Linked DNA regions of Homo sapiens. The protein of the gene in region 1 purifies or fractionates together with the protein of each later gene. This does not show direct contact. Each region holds a gene or a part of one and is shown in the gene's direction. Other genes may lie near its edges.

Region 1 (6,330 bases):
ATGGAGCAAAGGCCAGAGGAGGGGCTGCTCCGGCAAGTGCTGTTACCCACCGCCTCGAGCCACAGCCTTGCTAGGGTGCTCCAGGGTCTCTGCGCAAGATTCTGCCCCCAAACCCTCTGTCTCTCGTTTATGGAGAGCCTGGGGGAGGAAAACCGGCTCCCCCAGGACCCTCGGCCCAGCAGAAAACCTGCACCACCCCACAGCCCCACCCGTGTCTCCGCACCGGCTGCTGTGGCTGGGACTTCTGGGGAAGGAGCTCAGGGCTGCAGGTCCGTGTGTGAGTCACGGGCACACATCTCTGCACACACGCGTGAGTCACGTGCACCCTTCTCTGCACACACACGTGTCCACATGCACCCGTTTCTGCACACACGCATGGAGTCGCGCACCCGTCTCTGCACACACGCATGGAGTGACGCGCACCCGTCTCTGCACACACGTGTGTCCACACGCACCCCTCTGCACACATGCGTGGAGTCACGCGCACCCGTCTCCTCACACACGCGTGTCCACACACACCTGTCTGCACACGAGTGTCCACACATTCCCGTCTCTGCACACGCATGTCCACGCGCTCCCGTCTCTGCACACACACGTGTCCACACGCACCCCTCTCTGCACACACACATGTCCACACGCTCCTATCTCTGTACACACGCGTGGTCATGCACACCCGTCTCTGCATACATGTGTGGAGTCACGCGCACCCGTCTCTGCACACACGCGAGTCACGCACACCCGTCTCTGCACACACACGTGTTCACATGCACCCGTCTCTGCAAACACGTGTGGAGTCACGCACACCCGTCTCTGCACATGCGTGGAGCCATGCGCACCCGTCTCTGCACACACGCGTGTCCACACGCACCCGTCTCTGCACACACATGCGTGGAATCACGCGCACCCGTCTCTGCACACACGCGTGGAGTCATGCGCACCCATCTCTGCACACACACGTGTCCACACGCACCCGTCTCTGCACATGCGTGTCCACACACATCCATCTCTGCACACACGCGTGTCCACATGCACCCGTCTCTGCACACATGCATGGAGTCACGCGCACCCGTCTCTGCACACACAAGTGTCCACACACCCGTCTCTGCACACGCACGTCCACACGCACACGTCTCTACACACGCACGTGTCCACACGCACCCGTCTCTGCACACCCGCGTGTCCACACGCACCCGTCTCTGCACACACGCATGGAGTCACGCGCACCCGTCTCTGCACAAAGTGTCCACACACACCCGTCTCTGCACATGCGTGTCCACACACACCCGTCTCTGCACACACGCGTGTCCACACACATCCGTCTCTGCACACACGCGTGGAGTCATGCGCACCCATCTGCACACACACGTGTTCACACGCACCCGTCTCTGCACATGCGTGTCCACACACACCCGTCTCTGCACACACGCGTGTCCACACGCACCCGTCTCTGCACACACGCATGGAGTCAAGTGCACCCGTCTCTGCACACACGTGTCCACACACACCCGTCTCTGCACACGCACATCCACACGCACACGTCTCTGCACACGCACGTGTCCACACGCACCCATCTCTGCACATGCGTGTCCACACACACCCGTCTCTGCACACACGTGTCCACACGCACCCGTCTCTGCACACACGCATGGAGTCACACGCACCCGTCTCTGCACACACAAGTGTCCACACACAGCCGTCTCTGTACACGCACGTCCACACGCACACGTCTCTGCACACACACGTCCACACGCACCCGCCTCTGCACACGCACGTGTCCACACGCATCCGTCTCTGCACACACACGTGTCCACACGCACCCGTCTCTGCACACACACGTGTCCACACGCACCCGTCTCTGCACACACATGTCCATACGCACCCGTCTCTGCACACACACGTGTCCACACACTCCTGCTCATGTGCTGCACCTACTGGCTTTGGGCACCAACGTCAACGCTTCGTCATTGTGGCGGGAGGCCCTCAGGACAGAGAAGTGCCCCCTCCCAGAGGACTCAGTCACCCTGGGGTCAGAGCCCAGGCACAGGTCTCCCTCAGCCCCTGAAGCTGGGCACTGCGGCCTGACGCACTCCTCCCAGGGAGGTCGGGAAACCTCAGGCCTGGACCATACCTCAGACCTCCCGCCTCCAGGACATGGAACGCAGAGCCACGGTCAGCTGGTCGGCTGCAGCGTTGGGTGCGGGTGCAGGCCCAGGCTCCTTCCCCACGGCCAAACCAGGGGGTGCCAATTCTGGCCTGCCCTGTGCTCCTCTGCACTGTGTGGGTGACTCATGGGTCATGGGTGGCTCCAGATTTCTGGGCATAAATTGGGTCCCAGCAGAAAGTACCCCAGAGGACCAGGCAGGCTGGGGGCCAGCTCTGCCGCTCACTTCCAGACCCTGCCACCCGTCCCCAGCCAGGGAGTCCCTTCTCTGTCCTCTGGTCTGCCCCGCCCCAGGCCTTGACCTCCTCCCTGTGGAGATGCAGGGGCAGTGGGGGATACAGGGACGCCCTGCTCTCAGGGCAGCTCTCAGGGAGGCAGTGCTGGGGAGGGGTAGGTGAGACCGCCCCTCCCACCGGGCCCACAGCACCACCCTGGTCTGAGGCACCGCCTCCAGGAAGCCCTCTCTGAGCTCTGAGCGCCTGCGGTCTCCTGTGTGCTGCTCTCTGTGGGGTCCTGTAGACCCAGAGAGGCTCAGCTGCACTCGCCCGGCTGGGAGAGCTGGGTGTGGGGAACATGGCCGGGCCTCCGAGGCTCCTGCTGCTGCCCCTGCTTCTGGCGCTGGCTCGCGGCCTGCCTGGGGCCCTGGCTGCCCAAGGTAAGAGCTTCCCAGGCTCTCCATGGCCACAGCTCCAGAGCTCTCCCTGCCCCATGAGCTCAGAGCCCCCAGTCTGAGCCACAGCACAGCCCCCAGGAAGCGGGTGGGGTGCTGAGCGGCCTCCAGTGTCTGAGGACTCATTTAAGAGAAGGAAAAAGGGTGGACCCCGGTGGGGAGTGGCCGGGGCTGTCCAGGCAGGGCCGCTGCTTTGGGAGGAAGAAGCCCACAGTCTCGGAACACGAGGACAGCACCTCCCCCAACACCACAGCCGGTGCCCAGATCTGCTCCATGCCCCGTAAGGCACCGTGTCTTTGGCGACATGTCAGCCCTGGGCTGTCTCAGGGCCCCACCATCCCCACCACTGTCCCCTGCAGGGAGGACATTCTCTGTCCTTCTGGCCAGACTGATGGTGACAGCCCAGGTCCTCCCCAGAGGTGCAGCAGTCTCCCCACTGCACGACTGTCCCCGTGGGAGCCTCCGTCAACATCACCTGCTCCACCAGCGGGGGCCTGCGTGGGATCTACCTGAGGCAGCTCGGGCCACAGCCCCAAGACATCATTTACTACGAGGACGGGGTGGTGCCCACTACGGACAGACGGTTCCGGGGCCGCATCGACTTCTCAGGGTCCCAGGACAACCTGACTATCACCATGCACCGCCTGCAGCTGTCGGACACTGGCACCTACACCTGCCAGGCCATCACGGAGGTCAATGTCTACGGCTCCGGCACCCTGGTCCTGGTGACAGGTAGGGAATGTGCCCATCCCAGACCCCCCTCCCAACCCCAGCTGCTGGCCAGGCTCTGCTCCCCCAGCCCTTGTCGTGGGACCCTCCCTCCTACATGTGCCTGAACTGTTCCAGCTCCCAGCCCACTGCCCCCAGCAGCCTCCTAGATAGCTGCCCCTCCTCCCCTCCACAGCCTTTCCCTGCCCCGAATCCCAAACCCCGGGGGCTCTAACAGGTTCTCCACCGGGAGAATCCCTTCCTTCTTTTTTCCTTCTCAGAGGAACAGTCCCAAGGATGGCACAGATGCTCGGACGCCCCACCAAGGGCCTCTGCCCTCCCTGCCCCACCGACAGGCTCCGCCCTCCCTGACCCGCAGACAGCCTCTGCCCTCCCTGACCCGCCAGCAGCCTCTGCCCTCCCTGCGGCCCTGGCGGTGATCTCCTTCCTCCTCGGGCTGGGCCTGGGGGTGGCGTGTGTGCTGGCGAGGACACAGGTCAGTGTGAGCCCCAGCTGCCACCTGCACCCCAAAGATTGTTCCCTCTCCTGAGAGCAGCGTGGGGGGCGCCAAAGCCCCAGAGGAAAACCCTGGTACCCGCCGCCTCCTCTGCAGGCTCTGGAACTCTCAGGGTGGAAGTGGCCTCGGCGGGGAGGGAGGGGGACCAGCACCAAAGCGACCTGAGGGGGAGGGAGCAGCCCAGGCGCTGGGCCCGCGTGTGCGCGTGTGCGCGTGTGCAGGTGTGAGTGTCTGAGGGGGGATCTCTGAGGTCTGTGCGTGCAGGTTGGAGTGTGCGGGCAGAGGAGGGAGCGCCCAGGCGCTGGGCCCGCGTGTGCACGTGTGCAGGTGTGAGCCTGTGTGTGGGGATCTCTGAGGACTGTGCGTGCATGTTGGAGTGTGCCGGCGTGCTGTGTGGCCGTGGGAAGGGGAGGGGGCCTCAGACAGACACAGAGTCTAGGCGTGGCCACTCCCCTCGGTCCCTGCTGTTTGTCTGGGGCTGGAGTGGGGGTCCCGCTTGGCTTGGGCTTGGTGGGGGGGTCCAAGCCACTTCCACTCTCCTTCTTCAGAGGCACCCCAGGGTCCGACCCAGCCCTGCCTGGGGAAGGCTCTGCTGGGAAGCCCTGGGGCTCAGGAGACCTGGGGGCCAGCCCAGAGGAGCCCCGTGGGGGTCTCGTGTTAAAATTAGAAAGCTGACCGGAGTGGGGTGGGGTCCAGGACACCACGCTGGCCACTGGTTGGAGACGGCGGTTCTGTCTTTCAGATAAAGAAACTGTGCTCGTGGCGGGATAAGAATTCGGCGGCATGTGTGGTGTACGAGGACATGTCGCACAGCCGCTGCAACACGCTGTCCTCCCCCAACCAGTACCAGTGACCCAGTGGGCCCCTGCACGTCCCGCCTGTGGTCCCCCCAGCACCTTCCCTGCCCCACCATGCCCCCCACCCTGCCACACCCCTCACCCTGCTGTCCTCCCACGGCTGCAGCAGAGTTTGAAGGGCCCAGCCGTGCCCAGCTCCAAGCAGACACACAGGCAGTGGCCAGGCCCCACGGTGCTTCTCAGTGGACAATGATGCCTCCTCCGGGAAGCCTTCCCTGCCCAGCCCACGCCGCCACCGGGAGGAAGCCTGACTGTCCTTTGGCTGCATCTCCCGACCATGGCCAAGGAGGGCTTTTCTGTGGGATGGGCCTGGGCACGCGGCCCTCTCCTGTCAGTGCCGGCCCACCCACCAGCAGGCCCCCAACCCCCAGGCAGCCCGGCAGAGGACGGGAGGAGACCAGTCCCCCACCCAGCCGTACCAGAAATAAAGGCTTCTGTGCTTCCTTTTCTGACTTCTGCATTTATTCCTCAGCCAGCAGGAGCCAGGGAGGGAGATGGCTGACACTTCGGACCCTCCCCAAGCCTCCGCCTGGGGCTCTGCAGCTGTGGCCTTGAAGGTGGGGAAGGGAGCACTTCCTCACCCCAGCCCTGAAAGGAGCCCTGGGGGCCTCCCACCCTTGAGAAGAAGCACATCCACCTGTCCAGGTGGAGGCCAGACCCAGGGGCCCTTCAGGAGCCTCAGGATGGCCCCCCATGCCCCCGACCCCCACTCCAGCGACACCGCCTCCCGAGGCCTCCGAGGCCGACCCCAGGGCACACCGGGACCAGCAAGCTGAGCACAAGGCTGCCTCACTCAGCAGCCTGAGCGCTTCCCCTCCCTGCCCCGTCTTACAAGGTGCCTCCTCCTCGTTCTCAGAGGCCCCGGGGGAGACCCAGCTGGACTCTCCAGACCTTCCCCAGCCAGCGCAGCTCCCATGCTGCACGTGGGGACAGGAGCCACCATTCGCCCATTCCCGGGGGAAACAGAGGCACTGGCCCTCAGCCACTGCCTGGGGAGCCGCTAGGGCGCCACACACTGCACTTCATTGCCTCCTGCGACACAGGTGGGGAGCAAAGGCGGGGCCTTATGTGCAGGCTCCTCACCCACCCCTCACACCTGCCCCTCACTCACCCCACACCCACACCTCAAGCCCTTCCTCCTGCCGCACTGGCGCGTTAACCCGGGGTCCTCCTTGTGCAGGACGCGCCCCACAGCCTCATCCAGCTGCCTCTGTGCAGGCTCTAGGCCACTGTCCTGGTGTCCAGGACTCACGTCCAGGAGCCGGCCTCTGGTCAGCACCCCTAGCTTCACATGGGCAGCCTGGGGCGGCCTCCAACCTTGAATGTGGTCTCTGTGACACCTGGAGTAGCTTCTGGGCCGAGGCCCAAGTCCTCTCCAGCCCATCCAGGCCCACCGTCAGGAGGAGAAATCAGAGTG
Region 2 (5,652 bases), on another chromosome or scaffold:
CGAAGTTTCTTTTTCTTTTTTTTTTTCTTTTTTTTTTGAGACAGAGTCTTGCTCTGTCGCCAGGCTGGAGTGCAGTGGCGCGATCTCAGCTCACTGCAGCCTCCGCCTCCCAGGTTCAAGCAATTATCCTGCCTCAGCCTCCTGAGTGGCTGGGACTACAGGCGTGCACCACCACACCCAGCTAATTTTTGTATTTTTAGTAGAGACCATGTTGGCCAGGATGGTCTCGATCTCTTGACCTTGTGATCTGCCCACCTCGGCCTCCCAAAGCGCTGGGATTACAGGCGTGCCACCGCGCCCGGCCTCCAAGTTTCTTAAATAAAAGAGCTTGCAAGCTCAAGTGGGAACCATCATTTCTAGAAGCAAAGAAATGTGAGTGCCCTGAGGTTTAAATGTCAGCCAGAGGCTTGCTTGCTTTCTCTTTCTTCCTTCCTTCCTTCCTTCCTTCCTTCCTTCCTTCCTTCCTTCCTTTCTTTCTTTCTTTTTCTTTCTTTCTTTCTTTCTTCCTTCCTTCCTTCCTTCCTTCCTTCCTTCCTTCCTTCCTTTCTTTCCTTTCTTTCTTTCTCTTTCTTTCTTTTTCTTTCTTTCTTTCATTCATTCTCTCTTTCTCGTCTTTCTTTCTTTCAGAGAAGGTCTCACTCTGACACCCAGGCTGGAGTGCAGTGGTGCAGTCTCACTGCTCACTGCAGCCTTGACATCCAGGGCTCAAGGTCCTCCCACTCAGCTTCCGAGTAGCTGGGACTACAGGCACGCACCACCACACCCGGCTAAAAATTATTTTTCATGGAGACAAGAGTCTCGCCATGTTGCCCTGGTTGGTCTCAGACTCCTGGCTTCAAGCAGTCATCCTCTTGCCTCAGCCTCCCAAAGTGCTGGGATTACAGGTGTGACCCACCATGCCTGTCCTTTTTTTGTGGGCAGAGGGTATTTTTAGTTTGTTGGCAAATGTAAGAAGGGGCTAAGATTATCTTTGATAGGTACAGGAGAAGGAGGAATATTTTTGTTTTTCTTTCATGACACTGTTAGAGCTGCATTGGAAGTGGGTTAGGTCAGCTGAGAAGTGAGCTGGTGCTTTGACAGATGGAAGTAATACGATCTCTTAATTCTACCTGGCAGGTAAAGTACTACCATCTCAGTACATAGGCCACAGAGAAGGACAGACCATAGGTATGTTACTTGGTGATTTAGGGATTCCAGTCTCTAAAATTTCCTGGCCACTATCCTTTCTCATAGGGGAAGTCCAAACACAGATGCCCTGACAAAACTTTTTGACGTACTCATACTGCTTCCAGTGAAGAAAATGTGATTTAGAACAAAGGGCACTTTCTAAATGCTTGCGGTGGGTTAGACTGGCCCACAGACTTACTGTAGTTGGAATTGTCATCTTTGGCTCTCCTCCAAATGTATTTACTTTATTAAACAAATACTTACATAGCATTTACTATATTCCTTTAAGTGCTTTACAAATAATAACTCACTTAATCTTTATAACCACCCTTGGAGGTAGGTACTGTTATTATCCCCGCAGGTGACAACACAAGCCCATGGTATAACAAATTTTTCCAAGGTCTCACACCTAGTAAGTGGTAGAGGCAGGATTGGGCCAAGGCGGGTTGGCTGTGGAGTTCATGTTCTCACCACTATCCTTTGCTCCCTCAGAGTCAGTCATCAGAATTTCCATATTCTGGACAGGTGCGGTGGCTCACGCCTGTACTCTCAGCACTTTGGGAGGCCGAGGCAGGCGCATCACTGGAGGTCAGGAGTTCGAGACCAGCCTGGTCAACATGGTGAAACCCCATCTCTACTAAAAATACAAAAATTAGCCGAGCACTGTGGCAGGCACTTGTAATCCCAGCTACTCGGGAGGCTGAAGCAGGAGAATTGCTTGAGCCTGGGAGGTGGAGGTTGCAGTGAGCCGAGATCGTACCACTGCACTCCAGCCTGGGCGACAGAGTGAGACTCCGTCTCAAAAACAAAACAAAAGAAAAGAATTTCTAAATTCTCTTCTCAGCTACTATATTGGTTAGTATTGAATTTGACTATATGTGACAGATATTTTAAAATAATGATGACTTGAAAAAAGGTTCATTTACACCTCATGTAAAAGAAGTCTATAGGCTAGCTGCTCAGGCATGCTCAGGGCTGGCATGACATTTCACTTTATTGGAGACATAGGGTTCTTCCTGCCAGCTGATCAGCCATCTTTAGGATATGGCTTCTACTACATGGTCCAAGATGGCCGCTCAAGCTGCAAACATCTTGTCTGCTTTTCAGCCATTTGGAAGAAGGAAAGGGAGAGGGTGAATATGCCCCCATCCTTTAAGGCACTTCGTAGAAGTTGTAGGAGACTCTTCTACTTACATTCCATTGTCTAAAACTTAGCTGTAGTAGTGGCTGGGAACTATAGTCTTTTTTCTTTTTTCGCCCAGGTAAAAATCATGGGTCTTGTGTCTAGGGAACAAGGGGGAACAGAGATTGGGAGAACCAGCACTTTCTGCGACAGCCACTTTTGGATCTTAGACAGTCTGAAAGATTCTTGAAGATAACAGCCCTGGTCCCATTTCTCAATTTTGGATGGTTTCTGTCTCAGTGGGGTCCAAGAACAGATGGAAAATGCTAGAAGTCATGGGGAGAGTATACACATACCCCCCTCACTTACCTCCTTGTGCTTCAGGTCTCATGCTCACTCAACTGCAAAAGGGTTTTTTGAGCTTTTTCTCTTTTGCGTGGAGTAATACTAGATTTTCACATTGCCAAGAATCATAGGACAGCATGTGACTCACTAGGTTAAGAGGATTAAATGACATATCACACATGAAAGCCCTGACGTAGTTCCTGGCACTTAGTTGGGGCAGCTCAATCAGATTTTTAAAAACATTCCTACTAACTGCTTAATTAGGGTTCTTGGGGTACATGGTATCGAATAAGGCTATAAGAGTTGGTAGATGGGGCGCAGTGGTTCACGCCTGTAATCCCAGCACTTTGGGAGGCTGAAGCGGGCGGATCACAAGGTCAGGAGATAGAGACCATCCTGGTTAACATGGTGAAACCCCATCTCTACTAGAAATACAAAAAATTAGCCGGGCGTGGTGGCGGGCACCTGTAGTCCCAGCTACTCGGGAGGCTGAGGTAGGAGAATGGCGTGAACCCGGGAGGCGGAGCTTGCAGTGAGCCAAGATCGTGCCACTGCTCTCCAGCCTGGGCGAGACAGCAAGACTCTATCTCAAAAAAAAAAAAAAAAAAAAGTTGGTAGATGATGCTTAAAATCTCGAGACCTACATGTATGACAAACTTGACTGCCTCTTAACGTTTTAGTAAAATAATTTTATTATATTTTATTATATATATATTTTTGAGACAGTTTCTCACCCTGTCGCCCAGGCTGGAGTGCAGTGGCACAACCTTGGCTCATTGCAGCCTTGGCCTCCCAGTGTTGGGATTACAGGTGTGAGCCACTGTGCCTGGATGGTTTTATATATTTCAACAAGCCCTTCCCTTCCTTTTGTAAGAATGAACTTGTAAATAAGGCTTCTCTACCTAAATAGCTAAATCAAGGACTACTATTTTCCTCCAACCTATACCATAGAATACAGCAGTTCTTAGAGTGTGGCCCAGGGATCTTGACCTCTGGGAGTTCCTTTTTGGGGTCCACAGGTCAAAATTATTTTCATCATAATTCTAAGACTTTATTTGCCTTTTTCATTCTCATTTACTTAGGAGTGGAGAGTGGAGATTTCCAGAGACTACATGATGTGTGATATTGAAACAGATTGAATACTAAGATATGAGATATAGCCTTTACCCACATTAACAAATGCTTTTTGGAGTCCTTAATAATTTTTTTTTTTTTTTTTGAGATGGAGCCTCACTCTGTCGCTCAGGCTAGATCAGGCATGATCTCGACTCACTGCAACCTCTGCCTCCTGGGTTCAAGCAATTCTCCTGCTTCAGCCTCCCAAGTAGCTGGGATTACAGGTGCGCCCACCACCATGCCCGGCTAATTTTCGTATTTTTAGTAGAGACAGGATTTCAGCATGTTGGCCAGGGTGGTCTCAAACTCCTGATCTCAGGTGATCCACCCGCTTTGGCCTCCCAAAGTACTGGGATTACAGGCATGAGCCACCACACCCAGCCTAATTTTTAAGAGTTTAAACTTTTTGAGACCAAAACGTTTGAGAACTATCCACTTAATGTTTATGAAACTTTAAAAGAAGACTTTTATAAAAGGTAATTTCTGTATATTTCACTGTGCGATGTGAATGATATGCTTGAACTGTCTTACATTTTAGGTTCTTGGAGAAAGGACCTCTTTTAGCATAGCATGACACCCTCCTCCTTGTCATTGCTGATTAGATATAGGAACCCCGCTGGGTTCCAGGTTCCAGTAATTTTTTGTTGTTGTTTGTTTTGAGAGGGGGGTCTAGCTCTGTTGCCCAGGCTGGAGTGCAGTGGTGTGATCTTGGCTCACTGCAACTTCCACCTCCTGGGTTCAAGCGATTCTCCCGCCTCAGCCTCCTGAGTAGCTGGTACTACAGGTGCATGCCACCATGCCCGGCTAATTTTTTCTATTTTTTTTTTTTGTAGAGATGGGGTTTCACCATGTTGGCCAGGCTGGTCTTGAACTCCTGACCTCAAATGATCCACCTGCCTTGGCCTCCCAAGTGCTGGGATTATAAGTGTGAGCCACTGCGCTGGGCTCAGGTTCCAGTAATTGGTTGTGGGTTCTGACACCAGCTGGTGCATGGCCTCTTGCTTTCTTGTGTGATTTGGTTTTTATTCCCAACTTCATGGACTGCTACTGCTTAAGCTATCTGTACCTCACCCCTCCTTTGTTAAAAGGGGAGATTAGTAAATGGGTGTTAAGAAAAGTTGTTTTTATAATATTGGCATCAAACTGAAGCTCTCTCCTAGATATAATAAAGGAATTGAAAATCTATTAAGAGAAAAAAAACACAAAATATTAAAGAAGAGAGTGGATGGTGAGGAAAAATTAGGCAGTAGTCATTTTCTTTTCCAGCTAAATACTGGTGGGTGTCTTTCCAATTTGAGTGGTTTTAGAGTTTGTTCTCCATGAATGAGAAGAGTATTCTTGATTATTCAGTAGCATAGTTGATTTTATGAAGTGAACATTGGAAATTAGGCCAGAGGGTATTTTACCTCTCTGTCTAGGAAAGCCACCAAATGCCTGCAGAATGCTTGCACATCGTTCTCCACAGGCTAGGTCCTGAGCAAATGCTAACATAATTGAATTGAACTGAGGCTTACACTTAGTCCTGAAAGGCACTTGTCTCCCCTTCTGTCTGAATGCCCTTTTGTTCCTCCATTCTTCATACTCTAACATTCCCTCATTGATCTAGTCCAGGCAGTATTCTTTAATAAAACCCCTGTACTATTGCATAACCATAATTACTCATGCTTTTGGAGTCATTGAAATGCTTCTTATTCTCCTTATGGTAGAAGGAAATCAAGATGTTTGAGAGGTCAGTCTTTAAATGACACTTGACTGCAATCTTGGCCTTCAAGTTCTGCTTGCTTTTTTTTTGTTGTTGTTGTTTAATTTTTCTTTTTTAGAGATGGGGTCTTGCTCTGTCACCCAGGCTACAGTGCAGTGGCATGCTTCTAGCTCACTGCAGCCTTGATCTCCTAGGCACA
Region 3 (5,368 bases), on another chromosome or scaffold:
TTATAATTTTACAGGCAGGACAGCATTTGACTTTTATTTAAAAGGCGGCACTACTTATGTAAATCTGAGCTGTGGGATATTTCTTGCTTTAAGAGAGAGACAGAATCTCTCACTGAAACTCATGGTCATGATTTTGTATAATATAGTTCATACTGTGTCTGTGAGTTTCTTCAGTTACAAATGGGCATTTAGTATAGTTATATTGACTATAACATGTAAGTAAATAGCTTTCTACTGACCCTAAGTTATCAAGGTGGAAAAAAAACATGCAATTCAGTAATTGAAAATGTGGTGAAAAGCTGCAGCTGTCATCATCAAAACAACTCATAACATACTTTAAAATGTTCAGGTAGCAGTGAGCATTGTTCATATGAGAATGGCGGCTGGGTGATCTCTTTGCTGAATTAATGAGTTCTTAACATGTGGACCCAACTGCCTGTGTGAGATCTGTGTCTTAAAACTTACTGGAATGGAAATCTATGAATTATTGCAAATTGTAATGCTGGAAACAAAAAATAAATCCTTGGTTAAAGGGTTTGTAATGGTGATTTTTGACCCAGAAATCTCATTTACTGGAAAATTGTGAGACTTTACGTTGGTGTATTTTTCTTTTTTTTTTTTTTACTATTACAGAGTATTTTGCATGCTGTACATTTTAAGTGAAATAACATTCCAGTTTTATTTTTAAGATAGAAAATTGTTATATATATATATAATTTGATACTCTATTCTTACAGTTTCAAATTCCTTATCCCTTCTTTACAAAAAAAACTTTTTTTTTACCTGTTATGATTTATTCTATACTTTTTTCTTCTTCCTTCCCCTTTCCCACTTGCCATTTATTACTTCATGTCATTGCCATATGAGAAAGTACCAAATTATATCCAGTTTCCTCCTAGTGATATTACTCTGAAAAATTTCACAAAGCCAGACAAGAATAATTACTCATTTTTTTTCCCAAGACGACCCTCAAAGTTAATGTGCAGCAGGTATTCCAAATGGTAATTTTTTTTTTTTAGGATTCCCTAATAAAAAAAAAAAAAATTCTGATATTTCTTTTTAAATCTGATTTTGGTTGAGGTCATACCATTCTTAAATAATAATTGAAGGTTTATGTTGCCATCTTTTCTAATTCTGTTTTGCACTGATAAACTTACATAAAGTTTGTTTATGTAAAATAAGACATAAAGGAGTACAACATATCAAGGAATTTGAGTATTTATGTGGAATCAGGAAATTTTTCTAGAGTCACTGAATTTTCAAATCAGAGAATTTGGGCTGGATATGGTGGCTTATGCCTGTAATCCCAGCACTTTGGGAGGCCGAGGCAGGAGGATTGCTTGAGCTCAGGAGGTCAAGACCAGCCTGGGCAACACAGCGAGACCTCATCTCTACTAAAAAAAGTTAGCCGGGTGTGGTGGTGCTCACCTGTGTTAGTCCATTCTCACACTGCTATAAAGAAATACCTGAGACTGAGTAATCAAAAAAAGAGCTTTAATTGGCTCATGGTTCTGCAGACTGAACAGGAAACATAGCAGCTTCTGCTTCTGGGGAGGCCTCGGGAAACTTCATTCATGGCAGAATACGAAGGGGAAGCAGTCATAGCCAGAGGAAGAGCAAGAGGCGGGGATTGGGGGTAGGTGCCACACTCTTGTAAACAACCAGATCTCATGAGAACTCACTATACAGTACCAAGAGGGGAAGGTGCTAAAGTATTCATGAGAACTCCACCCCCGTGATCCAGTCATCTCCCACCAGGCCCTACCTCCAACATGGGATTACAATTCGACATGAGATTTGGTGGGGACAAAGATCCAAAGCATATCAGCATCTGTAGTCACAGCTACTTGGGAGGCCGAGGTGGGAGGATCACTTGAGCCCCAGAGGTCGAGGCTGCAATGAGCTATGATCATGCCACTCCAGCCTGAATGACAGAGTGAGATCCTGTCTCAAAAAGAGAATTTGGGTCTCTTTCTCCAAAAATAAGGCTATATTTAGTTTTTCAGGTTTCTTGTTATTTTACCAAATTAATGTTTCTTACTTTGTATCTACTTTGGCATATAGCATTTGAGTATTAAAGCATATAAATCATTTTTAAGGAAAATATTCTCTGCAGGAGAATAATTACAAAAATAATACTGGACAGAGGAGGGGCAGTCAAGGGTCCATGATTGATTCCTTCTTGCCCAAAACTAAAATCTAGGATTTATCAAAGGTGAGGTATACAGTGGTCCCTGACTTATAATGGTTGCACTTAAGAATTTTTATGATGGGTTTATTGGCACATAACCCAATAATAAGTAAAAAGCATCTGTACCTACTTTTAGCTTTGGCTGAGAATGGATCTCTAATTCACTGTAAGTAGCAGTCCCCAAACTATATAAGGTGGCACAGTTTTCATCATGGCAGTGGGAGGATGAGGGGTGGAGTGTTTTTGTTTTTTTTGTTTTTTTTTGAGACAGAGTTTCGTTCTTGTTGCCCAGGCTGGAGTGCACTGGCACAATTGCAGCTCACCGCAACCTTCACCTCCCGATTCAAGTGATTCTCCTGCCTCCTGAGTAGCTGGGATTACAGGCATGCGCCACCACACCCGGCTAATTTTGTATTTCTGGTTTAGACAAGGTTTCTCCATGTTGGTCAGGCTGGTCTTGAACTGCCGACCTCAGGTGATCCGCCCTCCTCGGCTTCCCAAAGTGCTGGGATTACAGGTGTGAGCCACTGCTCCGGTGATCTGTTTTTAAGTGGAGTATCCTGGGGGCCTATAGTATCCAACTCCAAAGAGGTAAGTTCCTGAACATACACTAAAGAACCTGTGAGATAAGATCAGACGGAAAAATTTTCAAATTTTTTCAAAAGCAAAGGTAATCCCTGCATACATCCTCCTACACACACACACATAGTGCAAAGTGAATAACAAAATGTCATAAGGCTTGAGTTTTTGGTATATGGCTTTCAGTGTTACCTTATCTCATAATTTAGGTAATGATTTTTGCTAAAATGATAACCATCTAAAGAGTGCCTAAGTTTTAAGTCTCGTAACTTTTTGAGGAAGAATGCTGGGAACTACAGAAAACTGCATAGGCATTTAGAATTTGTATTATCTTCTTAGACTGCATTTGTCAAGCTTTGGCAGCATTTCTTTTAAATGTGATGAACCCCAATTTGCCAAACTGTCAGAAGTCAGTGAAGCAAAGAATCGAAGGTAAAATGTTGATTCAAAGATTGTCTCCCCTAAATCCTTCATTTCTTTCTCTGAAATGGAACTTTGGAAGCCATTTATATAGATTAGTCTGACAGCCTTTATATTTGCATGTAAGTTTACTTGCATCCTTAGACTTGGCTTTATGCAAAAAGAAAATTTTTATTCGTTATATTGTATTTCATCTGTCTGATTTCCCTGGCACATTAAGATGGTCCTGGTCCCTCAGGATACTTTTTCCCTTAATAAATGTCATATGTAAATAAAGGCAACTCATTTATTAGTTTGGGATTTTTTTTCCCTTGAGAAATAAATGTTTGTTGAACATAAATTCTTCTTTACCTCATGTGCTAAGAACTAAACTATATAATCTGATATATTTTTTATGCCTATGTTTTTGAACAGAATTTGTTACTCATTCAGTGTGCCTGTTAGTTTTTTTTTTTTTTTTTTTTTGAGACGGAGTCTCGATCTGTCGCCCAGGCTGGAGATCCGCTCACTGCAAGCTCCGCCTCCCAGGTTCACGCCATTCTCCTGCCTCAGCCTCCCGAGTAGCTGGGACTACAGGCTCCCGCCACCACGCCCAGCTAATTTTTTGTATTTTTAGTAGAGACGGGGTTTCACCATGTTAGCCAGGATGGTCTCGATCTCCTGACCTCGTGATCCACCCGCCTCTGCCTCCCAAAGTGTTGGGATTACAGGCGTGAGCCACCGTGCCCGGCCGCCTGTTAGTTTTTAGGATTTCTTTTTGGTCGTACAAAACCTAACTATAATAACTCTTAATCATTTTATAATCGGTTTCACTTTAAAGAGAACTATTCATTTTTTGGTTTTATAAAACCAAACTATAATAACTTAATCATTTTATAATCGGTTTCAGTTTAAAAAGAACTATTAATATACTGTTTATTAACATATTAACATTAATATGTTTGGTAAAACAAAATTTGGAAAGTTATATTCCTTAGTGATATATATTTTCAGTACATTTTGACATAACTAGATTATTTAACATTTTAATTAGGCTGTTTTGTTTCAGATGTGTCTACAAGAGTATGTTTAGAGAAAAAAATACAAAACATGGAAACATCAAAACCCTCAACCTAAGGCCAGCCTGCACTGTGATCTAAATTGAACTCTATACTAATCCTGTGGGAATTCCAACTGTATTTTCTTTTTCATGAGAAACTAAACCAAAGTAATTTGGTATTTTGAGAGGGTAAAATTCCCTCCCAAAATTCAAAACCTATTGAAAGTAGAACCACTACAGTTTATGATTTGCACAGGAAAATAAAGAATTGTATGTGTCATTAGGGCCCAAAATACAACCCTTTTAAAAGGTTTTTAAACGGCCGGGCGCGGTGGCTCACGCCTGTATTCCCAGCACTTTGGGAGGCCGAGGTGGGCGGATCACGAGGTCAGGAGATCGAGACCATCCTGGCTAACACGGTGAAACCCCGTCTCCACTAAAAATACAAAAAATTAGCAGGGCGTGGTGGCAGGCACCTGTAGTCCCAGCTACTGGGGAGGCTGAGGCAGGAGAATAGCAAGAACCCGGGAGGCAGAGCTTGCAGTGAGCCGAGATTGTGCCACTGAACTCCAGCCTGGGAGACAGCAAGACTCTGTCTCAAAAAAAAAAAAAAAAAAAAAAAAAGTTTTTAAATAGACTAAAATATATACTTGCTAGTATTATAACAGCTATTAACAGAATATTTTGAGGTCTGTTTGCCAGGTACTGTTTTACATGTACACTTTTTTGTTGTTGTTTTTGAGACGGAGTCTCGCTGTGTCGCCCAGGCTGGGGTGCAGTGGCGCGATCTCGGCTCAGTGCAAGCTCCGCCTCCCGGGTTCACGCCATTCTCCTGCCTCAGCCTCCCAAGTACCTAGGACTACAGGCGCCCGCCACCATGCCCAGCTGATTTTTTTTGTATTTTTAGTAGAGACGGGGTTTCACCGTGTTAGCCAGGATGGTCTCGATCTCCTGACCTCGTGATCTGCCAGCCTCCGCCTCCCAAAGTGCTGGGATTACAGGCATGAGCCACCATGCCTGTACATGCCTACATGTACACATTTAATCCCCACAAAGAGCCAGTGAAATGTGGTCTGTAATTCACATTTTTGCAGATGAGGAAACAGATACAGTAGTTAATATTAGTGTCTGAGACTACT
Region 4 (5,652 bases), on another chromosome or scaffold:
CCTTTCTGTTCAAGGACACCCACGCATATTTTGTCTTCACAAATGACACAAAGTATATGAAATGATGTGAGTGCTCAGAATAGCTCAGCTTCTCAGGTGTGTCTTCATGTCCTGATAAATAAGACAATATGTTCCAGACAGCATTTCATGTCTAATACTTACCAAACATATACTCTTGGCTCTGGTCTCAGAGCTTAGTGGCAGGACTCAAGCTTTGAGCAAAGGAATCATCTGTGGAGTTTTGCACTACATAGTGCTGAACAGGGGCCCAGGAATCTGAATTTTTATAAGCTCCTTAGGTGATTTTGAAACAGGGACCATTCTTTGAGAAATATGTTTTCTTTTCCTCTTCTTCACCTTCTTCTTCTTTTTCTTTTTTTGAGACGACAGGCTTTTGCCCTATCACCCAGGCTGGTGTTCAGTGGCGCCATCATGGCTCACTGCAGCCTTGACCTCTTGGGCTCAAGCGATGCTCCCGTATGAGCCTCCTGAGCAGCTGGGCCTACAGGTGTGCACCGCCACACCTGAATAATTTTTTTATTTTTTGTAGAGATGAGGTCTTACTGTGTTGCCCAGGCTGGTCTCGAACTCCTGGGCTCAAGTGATCCTCCCATCTTAGTCTCCCAAAGTGCTGGGATTGTAGGCATGAGCCTGAGAAATATAGGCACTTGGCCCTAAGAAATACTGTTTTAAAAGCAGGAAGGAAGAGGGGCAAATCCTCCTAGGGGCTCAGATTTTTCTCCCCAGGCAGCCTTCCTGAGATTGGCAGGTCCTGCTTTGACAGCCCTTGTCTGGCCTGCCCTGCTCCCCTGCTTAAGGTTTGGTTCCATCTCCTTATTTGCAGTGTTCCACAGAGGCACTGGGTAGCAGGATAATCCTTGGACAACCCCAGAGACCTTAACCCTGGGCTGTCCCTACTCTGGCTTCACCCAGACGGCTGTCTATTGAGGAGGGGAGATCTCAGCTACTCCTCGCTAAGATGCAGGAAGGCTCACCCAGGTGCTGCCCACCTGGGAGGTACCCAGGCACGCCTTGCTGATCTGGGTTGCAGCAGCCTCTGTAATGGTTGCCAGCCTTGTTGCCTGTCTTGAGATTCTTTTGGCCAGAGCCTCCACTCGGTAGAGGCTCAGCTTTTCTCACAGGGGCCATCGGTCACTCGTGTCAGTGTGACCAAGAAGGGTGGGGTTATAATCTTATCTTCTTCTCCTCCTTATGGTCATGGCCACACCTCTGCCTGTAGCCATGAAGGCTGAAGCCTTTTGAGGCCACTGCAGCAGTTTCTATCCTTCACGTAACTGTAGGCACACACCCTCAGGTGTCTTTCATTTGGTTCCTAACTCATTAGTTCTCATGGATCAGACCGGTAGGGGGTCCTGTAAGAGCCCACTGCCTTCCACATCACCACCAGTGGTTTATGACCAAGACTTTATCTCCTCCCTGTTGCTGGAAAAATCCCAGAAGTTCTCTCTATGAAAAAACTTGAGACCTTATTGATTTCTCCCTTTCATTTACAGACTAACGCTGCTTTACTCAACCACCCTCTTCCTGGCCAGAGAGGCCTTCCGCAGAGCATGTCTCAGTGGGGGCACCCAGCGAGACTGGAGCCAGACCCTCAACCTGCTGTGGCTAACGTGAGTTGTGCTTTGGCAGGAGACACGTTTCAGGAAGGCAGGTGTAGTGAGCATTGGAAATGAAACAGTAACACGTGCCTAAAGCTGAATTGCCCCCAGATTCAGTTTCGTCATGGGTTTCTGGGAGCAGGCATACAACAAGACGGGGACAGTGTTTGTGTCAAAGGAACTTCTTGGCTCATTTTCTCTCTGGATATCCAGGAGCCAGGAAGAGGTTCTGGGTTGGGGTTTCTGGGCCAGGTTTCTAGCCCTGGTTTCATCCTCTTTGGAGGTGGTTTCTTGCTGTTTCTGACCACCACTGTGGGCTCCACTTGGCCTGTGCCATCTTTTTTATTCCTAATCTTTTTGCTCTATAATATCTTTTGAGCTTTTAACAGCCACTTAGATTTAGTATTTCTTGAAAGCCTTTTATGGGTTTTATTACATTTTTCTTCAGTTTTGTTATGTGACTTCAGTTCTGAGTCTTTTAGGATATTCTTGAAGATCAAATACATTAGCTTAAAATTGCAATGGCTTTTCTCCAGCTAGGTCCCCACAGGGAGGGCTGGGGTTTGAGGTTATTTCCCAGTGCTGCCCTTGCATAACTCCTTATTGCCTCACAGAAATGACTGTCATGAGGGCTGGTAGGTGTTCATTTTATTAGAGGAACAACTGTTAACCACCCAGTCATATTTAAGTGCCCCATGGTACACATGTGAAACATGCGAAAGGATACTGAGCACTGCTCTGTTGGTTATTTGGGATGCAAGGAACAGCTGTATACAGTCTGTCAGTCATTCTAACAACAGGCATTTTCTTTCTGGGAATTTTGCTTATGGGGTCAGTATGTGTAACCCAGTGGATAGAAGTTTAGGCTTTGGAGTTATTGCAGGATTGGGTCTTGCTTCTGCCCTTGATTAGCTGTTCATGACCTTGGCCAAATTGCCCAGTGCCTGTCAGCCTCAGTTTCATTTTTTTAATGGAGATAATGACAGAGGATCATTGTGAGGTGTCAGTGAGATAAGCGGCGTGAATCATAGTGCCTGGCATGTAGTTAGTATCTTATAAATAAATGGTAGCTGTTTGTATTATAACTATTTTTTTCTGTTCAGTGTTACTATTTTAATATATATTTATATTTATTTTAAAATTTAGTGAATTATTTTTTTCTCCTCTTCTAGAGTCCCCCTGGGTGTGTTTTGGTCCTTATTCCTGGGCTGGATCTGGTTGCAGCTGCTTGAAGTGCCTGATCCTAATGTTGTCCCTCACTATGCAACTGGAGTGGTGCTGTTTGGTCTCTCGGCAGTGGTGGAGCTTCTAGGAGAGCCCTTTTGGGTCTTGGCACAAGCACATATGTTTGTGAAGCTCAAGGTCAGTGCACCTTCTGCTGTGAATGGGAAATGGGAAGAATAAGAAAAAGCGTTGTTTTTTAAAAATGCTTTTATAGGAGAGAATGAATGATTTTTCCAGACTTGCACCTAAAAATGTATTTAGAAAAAGATAACATGGTCAGTTAAGTTCTTACACTTGAAATTTGTCAGATGGGCTAGGCTAAAGTTCACCTCTGTTTCACCATAAATAAAAAACAGATTTGCTAATAATTTATTAGTTCAAGTCAGAATTTAGAAGGACCGTAAAGGTTTTTCAGATTTTTCTAGTGGTTATATTTAGTTGTATACTAACATTAACTTTTCTCTCTTCATCTTTTATAATAGATTACAAAAGAATATATATTTAATGTAAATCTTAAAGCATAATATACTGAAAGATCCATGAACCCACCACCCTACCCAAGAAGTAAAACGTTACTGATACTTATGTCCAGCTGTGTGCCCTGCCCCCACAGCCAGGGTGACCACTGCCCTAGATTTTCTGTCTATCATTCCATTACATCTTGACTTTTTGATGATGTTTGTAAACTGCACCTTAACCACATGTTTGCAGGTGATTGCAGAGAGCCTGTCGGTAATTCTTAAGAGCGTTCTGACAGCTTTTCTCGTGCTGTGGTTGCCTCACTGGGGATTGTACATTTTCTCTTTGGCCCAGGTAAGAATCATGGCTTTTAACTTTTTATATGATCTTTGTTTCTCCAACTGGTTTTTCTTCTTGTTCCCACCGCCGTGTGGTCTGCATTCACAGTACCCATGCCTGTGCAGGAGGTGGAAGCACCAGAAGGGTGGCCTTAGCACTGCTTCTCTAGCTGCCAGGTCCATTGTGTTCCATACACTGAGACCGTAGGTGTTTCTAGGGACCTGGTGAGGGCCACACACTGGACTTCATTGTCAAACATCAAAAACCCCTTTTAGACATTCAGTGGGCAAGCCTGTTTCAAACTGATCTTTGGTCATCTGATAGTCTTGTAAAGGAGAAAAAAATCAGTGGGGGGTGGGGTGGGAATCAAATTGTATATGTATTATTTTCCCTGGATTTCCATCTTTTTTTTGCAGAATAGGTGGAAACTCTGCCAAGCCTGTTTTAAACTTAGTTTGAAATCTCACATAATTCAGAGGGCATGAATCAAGTCAGAGTAGGTATGTGTTCAGTTTTAGCAATTTAGGCTTCATTTCCATCTCATTGTTTCCTAGTTCTAGTTCATATTTCTGGTTCTAATAAAAATACAACTAGAGTACAAGTGCTATTTTTAAAAATGAAATTTAAGATCAGATAGTTACCAGAACATTTTACAGTGCAAAGCAGTTGTAGTTTTCATTAATGTTTAGGAAGATAAATTAAGATTCTTAGTAATGATTTATGTAAAGGGTACTTCTCACAGAGGACACTGGCATCAGGTGGGTGGCTCACAGCAGTGCCGCTGGAGCTTTAAGGGCTTGGAGCATGAAGAAAGAAGGCTGGTGGATGATGGGCTTTGTCTCAGGCATGGTTGGGAGTGGAGAGCAGAGGGGCCCACACCTACTAAAGTGAGACTCTTCTTTTTCCTTGCCCTGTGCCTTTACTACAGGAGCAGCCTTGATATTGCCAGGTTGAAAGCAAGTCTAGAGGTGCCAGTCTTTCTTGAACCAGTGTGCACTGCTGTTCTCAGGAGGGAAAGAGGGTCGAAGGGAGCTTGTGAAAAGGGGCTTTTTTGGACTTTCCTCCTCAATCTGCAGACAAAACCCATCTGGCTGCTCCTGGCCAGAAGCCATTCTTTTGTCCTGGATGGGTGGAGGGAGGGGTGGGCCCTCTTATCACCCTACCCTTTCTTCCCCTATCTGTAGTAGCTCTTGCCCTGGCGAAGAGGAGAGAGCCAGCAGCTCAATTGTGCTTTGTAATCATTAATGGCACAGGTTTCCGGGGTTTATAGAAAACCCACAGTCCTTGATGACGGCAAGTCCTTGGATATTAACACAGTTAGGATACATAGATCTTTGCAGGGTGCTGACTAGGTGGAAGAGCCGTTCCTTTGGCCAAATACACACCTTTTGAGAATGTATCAGACATGGCTGTGGTAATTGAGCTAGTGTACATCTGTTATGGAAATTACATTCTGCCTGCCGAGAAGAATTATGTTCTTCCAGTTAAGTGAAGTGTTGGGAACACTTTGCAGGTAGATGCTGCAGTGGAGTTGGGTCTAAGTGACTAGTGCCATTTCCCAGAGGGTAAGGCATTGCTGAATAGAAAGTGCAGTTAATCAAGAGAGTTCTATTACTTGACTGGCCTTTGAGATCAAATTTATAGGCATATCTTAATTATGCCTTTATTAAAACAGTTTATTTTTTTTCTCAGCTTTTCTATACCACAGTTCTGGTGCTCTGCTATGTTATTTATTTCACAAAGTTACTGGGTTCCCCAGAATCAACCAAGCTTCAAACTCTTCCTGTCTCCAGAATAACAGATCTGTTACCCAATATTACAAGAAATGGAGTAAGTAATACATTTTTATCTCTTATCATTTTAATCATAGGTGCTGCTTATCCTTGAGAGAAAGAAACTGCAACTGGTTTATTGTTATAATCATAAATAGAATTTTATAGCTCATATTTATGGAGTGCTTGCTCTATGCCAGGCCAGGGTTTCTAAATCTTTGCACTGTGGACATTTTGGG
Region 5 (5,652 bases), on another chromosome or scaffold:
GAACAGAACGTGCCCGTGCCCAAGGAGCCCATCATCTTCAGCAAGTTTGCCAGCTCCATCGTGGGGCCCTATGATGAGGTGGTCCTCCCACCACAGAGCCAGGTCAGTGTCTCCCCACTGCCCTCCCTAGTCACTGGGCCCATCACAAGGGCATTCTGAGCTCAGTATTGAGCCTACTGGAGCCACCTCTCGCTCAATAGCGCATTCAGCAGAAACTCTACAGGATTGTACACACAGTAGTAACACTGGCCTTGGAAAAAAAAAGTTAATGTACGTGTTTTCCTGGTTACAAAAGCAATGCACCTTCACTGTAGATAATAAAATAGAGATAAACATTAAAAAATTATGTCACCCATAATCCCACTGCCCATGGCTCGGAATATTAATGTTTTTCTGTCTACCTTCCCAGTGTTTCTCCGCTCCTGTATATGTTTATACTGTACATATACTTACCTTTTACTTAAGACTCCATCAGGAGCATTTTTTCATGCCATTAAGTATTCGCCCTGACACCACGGAGTTTGTTATGTAGATTAGTTTATTCCTGAGTACCTTACTGCTGGATACTGTTTCTAGTTTTTGGCTTCTATAAATAAATGTTGCAGTAAACATCCTTATGTGGAAAAGGCTTTGCATGTCCATTAATACATTATTATTTCCTTTGAATAAACCCTTTGGAATTTAAATATGTCAGCGTATAGGCAGTATTTCAAAATTTTTGAAAAATTCTGCCAATTGGCCTTTTAAAAAATTGTAAAAGCAACTTACACATCCACCAGTAGTGTATATACCCTTTCTAACACTGGTTACTTTTTCTCTCAGATTTTTATTTTAGAAATGTCTTGAAAATTATAGAAAAGCTGGGAAAATAATACAGTGAACACTCAGATAACTTTTCCACCTGGTTTCATTGTAAACATTTGGCCATATATCCTTTTTCTCCCTTGTCTTCTCCCTGCCCTCCACATGGCAAACACACATTTTTTTTTTTTTTTTTTTTTTTTGCAGGGTATGGGGTGGAGGGGACCTTTTAAAACACATTGGAAATATTAAGACAATTTAGTCATAAAAACGTAAATAGGCATCTTCTAAGAATAAGGACAATGGCTTGCATGACCATCCCACCATTATCACAACCAAAAAAATTAACTTGAATAATATTTAATATGAAATCCAATTGCCCCAATTCCCAATCGGAAGTACTGCTGACTTCCCCAAAGATAACTTCTAATTTGGTTACTTCGTTTGTTGCTCCATGATCAACCAAGGCCACACACTGTATTCAGTTATATCTCTTTAGTGGTTTCAATCTAGGACAGGGTTCCATAGACTTTTTCTTAAAGGGCTGTATTAGTCTGTTTTCATGCTGCTGATAAAGACATATCCGAGACTGAGCAATTTACAAAAAAAAGAGGTTTAATTGGACTTACAGTTCCACGTGGCTAGGGAAGCCTCACAATCATGGCAGAAGGCAAGGAGGAGCAAGTCACATCTTAGGTGGATAGCAGCAGGCAGAAAAGAGCTTGTGCAGAGAAACTCCCATTTTTAAAACTATCAGATCTCATGAGACCCATTCACTATCATGAGAACAGCACGGGAAAGACCTGCCCCCATGATTCAGTCATCTCCCACCGGGTCCGTCCCATAGCACGTTAGAATTATGGGAGCTACAAGTTGAGATTTGGGTGGGGACACAGAGCTAAACCATATCAAGGGCCAATTAGTAAATATTAGGCTTTGCGTGTCATATGTTCTGTTTTGCAACAATTCAACTCTGCTGTTATAGTGTGAAAACCACGATACAGAAATGAATGATGGGTTTCCAATCAAAGTTGATTATAGCAGATGTTGAGCTGGCCATAGTTTGCCAACTCCTGCTCTCAAACAATACCCCCTGCCCTTTCCTTGAAGAATCCAGTTGTCTCATAGCATGTTTCACATTCTGGGTTTGTCTGGTTGTTTCTTCATGATTAGTGTCAGGGTAAGCATTTTTATCAAGAGATCTACAAAGCAGATGTTATACATTTTCCATCGTATCCCACTGGGAGGCTCATGTCAGTGGTCCCAGAATTTGACCACTTGGTTTAGCTGACATTCACTAGGTCCCTCCATTGTGAAGATGCATTTCTATTTTTGTAATAAGCAATCCATGGGTGGTAGTTTGAGATCACATAACTATCTTATTGCCCCATAGCATCTCATCCAGGGATCCTGTGGTCATCCTGACTGAATCTATTATTGCACTGGGGGTTAGAGAACAATGACCTTTTTTTTTTTTGAGACAGAGTCTCACTCTATTGTGCAGATGGAGTGCAGTGGCATAATTTCAGCACACCTCTGCCTCCTGGGTTCAAGTGATTCTCCTGCCTCAGCCTCCTGAGTAGCTGGGATTATAGGCGTGTACCACCACACCTGGCTAATTTTTGTATGTTTAGTAGAGACGGGGTTTCATCATGTTGGCTAGGCTGGTCTTGAACTCCTCACCTGAGGTGATCCACCTGACTTGGCCTCCCACAGTGCTGGGATTACAGACGTGACCCACCACTCCCAGACAAGATCAATGACTTCTCAATCATGCCTTCTGTTTTTATTGGCTGGCATTCTTCTATGAAGAAAAGCTGCCTCCCTCCTTTTTATTCCTGTCTTCAATATCACTGTGAATTCTGTTTTTACTCAATTGTTTGTAATTCATCATTTACATTCTTTAGGTGACCTCAGTTTGGCCAGTGAGGGGCCTTCAAGTTGGCTCCATTCCCGTCACTTTTAGTATATCCTAGCTTTCTGGCCAAGATGTTCTAGGCTTATCATGTACTGTCTGTCTTGGAACTGGAATTGGCCGTTTCCCCAAGGAACCCAGTGCTCCTTAGTGGGGAGTGGTATTAGAGACCAACATCTGGATGTCGGGTGTACTTACACCAACTCTGGTTATTATTAGAAAGAGCCACCAATTTTAAAGGCCAAATTATATCTATTTTATAGTGTATTTTATGGATTATGGGAGAGGCTGAGCATTTCTTCATGTTTTGTGGCCATGTCCGTTACCTTTTTGTGAATTGCTTACTCAAGTCCTTTGTGGGAGTTAATAGATTAAAACACTTAGAACAGTGCCTGACACACAGTAGGGTTACATATTGCTAGGGGATATTACTTCGTATTTATCCTTTGTTAAAAGTATCCAGAGTGACTTTTAAACTCAGTGCCCTGGACACGTGTTGCTCTTCTGCAGTCAGTGGTGTGGGGACCTGTGCCTGCATCCCATGATGCTGTCTGCCACTGCCCAAAATGTATGGGTCTACAAGTCACACCTCCCTTGTCATTCACTGGGCTCTGGTTCGTGGTGATGGCAAACATGGGATGGCAGCGAAGCCATACTGACAAAGGTTGAGGCCCTTCAGCATGGTGTGCAGCCTCTCAGCATGGACAGTGGGCCCTGAAGCCACTGCAGCTCACTGTTCCTCTCCCACCCTACAGGAGGTAGATTGGGAAGTGGAGCTGGCCGTGGTCATTGGAAAGAAAGGCAAGCACATCAAGGTGAGGTGGAAAGGGTGGGCTCCCAGTCCAGAGTGCAGCAGAGGCCCCAGCTCCTGCCTCTCCTAGTTCTGACCCCACTCACCAACACACGGTGCCAGCTGTCCCTGACACTAGGAAGCAGTCAGCCTCCTTGCTCCCTGACACTGCCTTTCCCTTCACCCACCTTTGGCTGGCTCTGGCTACTAACATGGGATAACAGCTTAGAGATCCCTTGCCATAGGTGTTGGTGTCACCCATGATCTAACCTCCTGTATGGCCAAATCCCCTGCCCCCATAGGCCACAGATGCTATGGCCCACGTGGCCGGCTTCACTGTGGCTCATGACGTGAGTGCTCGTGACTGGCAAATGAGACGTAATGGGAAACAATGGCTGCTGGGAAAAACCTTCGACACCTTCTGCCCTCTGGGCCCTGCCTTGGTGACCAAGGACAGTGTAGCAGGTAGGTCCCTGGTCCCTGCCCCCTTATACCTACCATTGCACAGATGAACAGCGCTTCAGGGAGGAGCATGGGTTCAGGTACATGTGGCACCTGCCCTCCCTGGCCGCCCTTTCACTGCTGACTCCATACAGGGCAAGTCTCTTATCCTCAGCCACGAGTTCTCCCATGGGCTTCCTTCCCAAGCCCCCTAGAGGGAACACAACTGCAGAGGATGTGAAACTGCATGCGTGAAGTAAATTACAAAGAACACTGAGCTGATGGGTGGATCGGGCTTCCTGCGGCTGCCACCTCTGAAACAATCTAAGTTGAGCATCATGGAGCATAGTTATCCCAAGGCCAAGGCATTTTCCACACTACAGGAGATGAAAGCCAGTGTGACTCACCCAGCCACTGTGGAAATAGAACAGCACTGACCACACACAGTCAGGATACAGCGCCAGGATGGGGGCAGTGCCCCAGAGGGCAGAGCGCAGCCTCTTACACAGCCACCCACAACTGTGGTGGAGGTGGGGGGTGTCCACATGGGCCAGCCATGCCAGGATACCAAAGACCCCAGTGCCTCAGCACCCCATGCAGAGTCCTCAGCAAAGTTAAATTGTGTTTCAGCTGCTCTACTTAAGGGGGGTAGAACACTAGGACCACCACCAACAGTAAAAAGTGCTGGTTAGCCAGGATGTTCTTACAGTAATCCATCCCCTGCCAGCATCCAGTACACGAGGCTTCTCTGTCCCGGCTAGAACCATTGCCTCACTGCTTTATAGATGCTGAGTCTTTTTTTTGCCATGGTCTTACTGTGTCACCCAGGCTGGAGTGCAGTGGCCCAATCCCAGCTCACTGAAGCCTCAACCTCCTGAGTTCAAGCAGTTCTCCCGCCTCAGCCTCCTGAGTAGCTGGGACTACAGGCACGCACCACCACGCCTGACTAATGTTTTTATTATTTTTTGTAGAGACAAGCACTCACTAAGTTACCCAGGCTGATTTTGAACTCCTGAGCTTAATCAGTTCTCGCCTGCCTTGGCCTCCCAAAGTGCTATGATTACAGACATGAGCCACCACGCTTGGCCCTGCTGAGTCAATCTACAGGTGTCATCCTATGCTGTAGACAGATGCCCTTATTTTTTTCAAGGCAAAAACCCTAGCCATTTTTCTCTTCCCCTTCAGAGTCTGAAACATCCTCTCAACCCATCCCTGTTACTACTGCTTGGTGCTCTTGGTGGGGATGCGGGGAGGCCTGAGAAGGCCAATGTCTATACAGAAAGTTCTAACATAGAGCACTGAGTCAATGTGGGCACTTTGAAGCCCTTTCACCTGCCAAGTCACGAAGCACCCCTACAGTTGTGTTTGTAAAATATTGGGGGGTTTGAGGGGGAAAAGGGATAACTCCAAGGTACCATCTTTGCATTTCAGATCCACACAACTTAAAGATCTGCTGCCGAGTGAATGGGGAAGTGGTCCAGAGCGGCAACACCAACCAGATGGTATTCAAGACAGAGGACCTGATAGCCTGGGTCTCCCAGTGAGTGACAGGGGCTGTCCTGCCAGCCCCGCTTCACCTGCCACACATGTGGAGGCTGACCTGAGCCCTCCATCTTTGGCTGTGGCCACCTCAGCCAGCCCCTGGTCTCACCGGGTCCTTCTGCTTTGATCCAGGTTTGTTACCTTTTACCCAGGGGATGTCATC

What was found.
Region 2: the proteins of CD7 (region 1) and PI4K2A purify together in Homo sapiens (affinity purification with western blotting, with the first as the bait; one study listed by BioGRID). This does not show direct contact.
Region 3: the proteins of CD7 (region 1) and SLC30A9 purify together in Homo sapiens (affinity purification with mass spectrometry; one large-scale study listed by BioGRID and IntAct). This does not show direct contact.
Region 4: the proteins of CD7 (region 1) and RFT1 purify together in Homo sapiens (affinity purification with mass spectrometry; one large-scale study listed by BioGRID and IntAct). This does not show direct contact.
Region 5: the proteins of CD7 (region 1) and FAHD2A purify together in Homo sapiens (affinity purification with mass spectrometry; one large-scale study listed by BioGRID and IntAct). This does not show direct contact.

What each region holds. Positions count from the first base shown.
Region 1 is NC_000017.11:82,313,900-82,320,229, reverse strand, and holds CD7 (T-cell antigen CD7 precursor), read left to right. Parts: upstream 1-2,621; 5' UTR 2,622-2,734; coding exon 2,735-2,816; intron 2,817-3,248; coding exon 3,249-3,563; intron 3,564-3,820; coding exon 3,821-4,035; intron 4,036-4,798; coding exon 4,799-4,909; 3' UTR 4,910-5,357; downstream 5,358-6,330. UniProt on the Homo sapiens protein: Transmembrane glycoprotein expressed by T-cells and natural killer (NK) cells and their precursors. Plays a costimulatory role in T-cell activation upon binding to its ligand K12/SECTM1. In turn, mediates the production of cytokines such as IL-2.
Region 2 is NC_000010.11:97,642,383-97,648,034, forward strand, and holds part of PI4K2A (phosphatidylinositol 4-kinase type 2-alpha), read left to right. Parts: intron 1-5,652. UniProt on the Homo sapiens protein: Membrane-bound phosphatidylinositol-4 kinase (PI4-kinase) that catalyzes the phosphorylation of phosphatidylinositol (PI) to phosphatidylinositol 4-phosphate (PI4P), a lipid that plays important roles in endocytosis, Golgi function, protein sorting and membrane trafficking and is required for prolonged survival of neurons.
Region 3 is NC_000004.12:42,086,987-42,092,354, forward strand, and holds the end of SLC30A9 (proton-coupled zinc antiporter SLC30A9, mitochondrial), read left to right. Parts: 3' UTR 1-3,475; downstream 3,476-5,368. UniProt on the Homo sapiens protein: Mitochondrial proton-coupled zinc ion antiporter mediating the export of zinc from the mitochondria and involved in zinc homeostasis, zinc mobilization as well as mitochondrial morphology and health.
Region 4 is NC_000003.12:53,119,703-53,125,354, reverse strand, and holds part of RFT1 (man(5)GlcNAc(2)-PP-dolichol translocation protein RFT1), read left to right. Parts: intron 1-1,514; coding exon 1,515-1,631; intron 1,632-2,791; coding exon 2,792-2,981; intron 2,982-3,554; coding exon 3,555-3,656; intron 3,657-5,333; coding exon 5,334-5,471; intron 5,472-5,652.
Region 5 is NC_000002.12:95,407,056-95,412,707, forward strand, and holds part of FAHD2A (oxaloacetate tautomerase FAHD2A, mitochondrial), read left to right. Parts: coding exon 1-102; intron 103-3,471; coding exon 3,472-3,531; intron 3,532-3,808; coding exon 3,809-3,971; intron 3,972-5,378; coding exon 5,379-5,487; exon of another isoform or gene 5,488-5,621; coding exon 5,622-5,652. UniProt on the Homo sapiens protein: Tautomerase that converts enol-oxaloacetate, a strong inhibitor of succinate dehydrogenase, to the physiological keto form of oxaloacetate. It is thereby required to maximize aerobic respiration efficiency by preventing succinate dehydrogenase inhibition.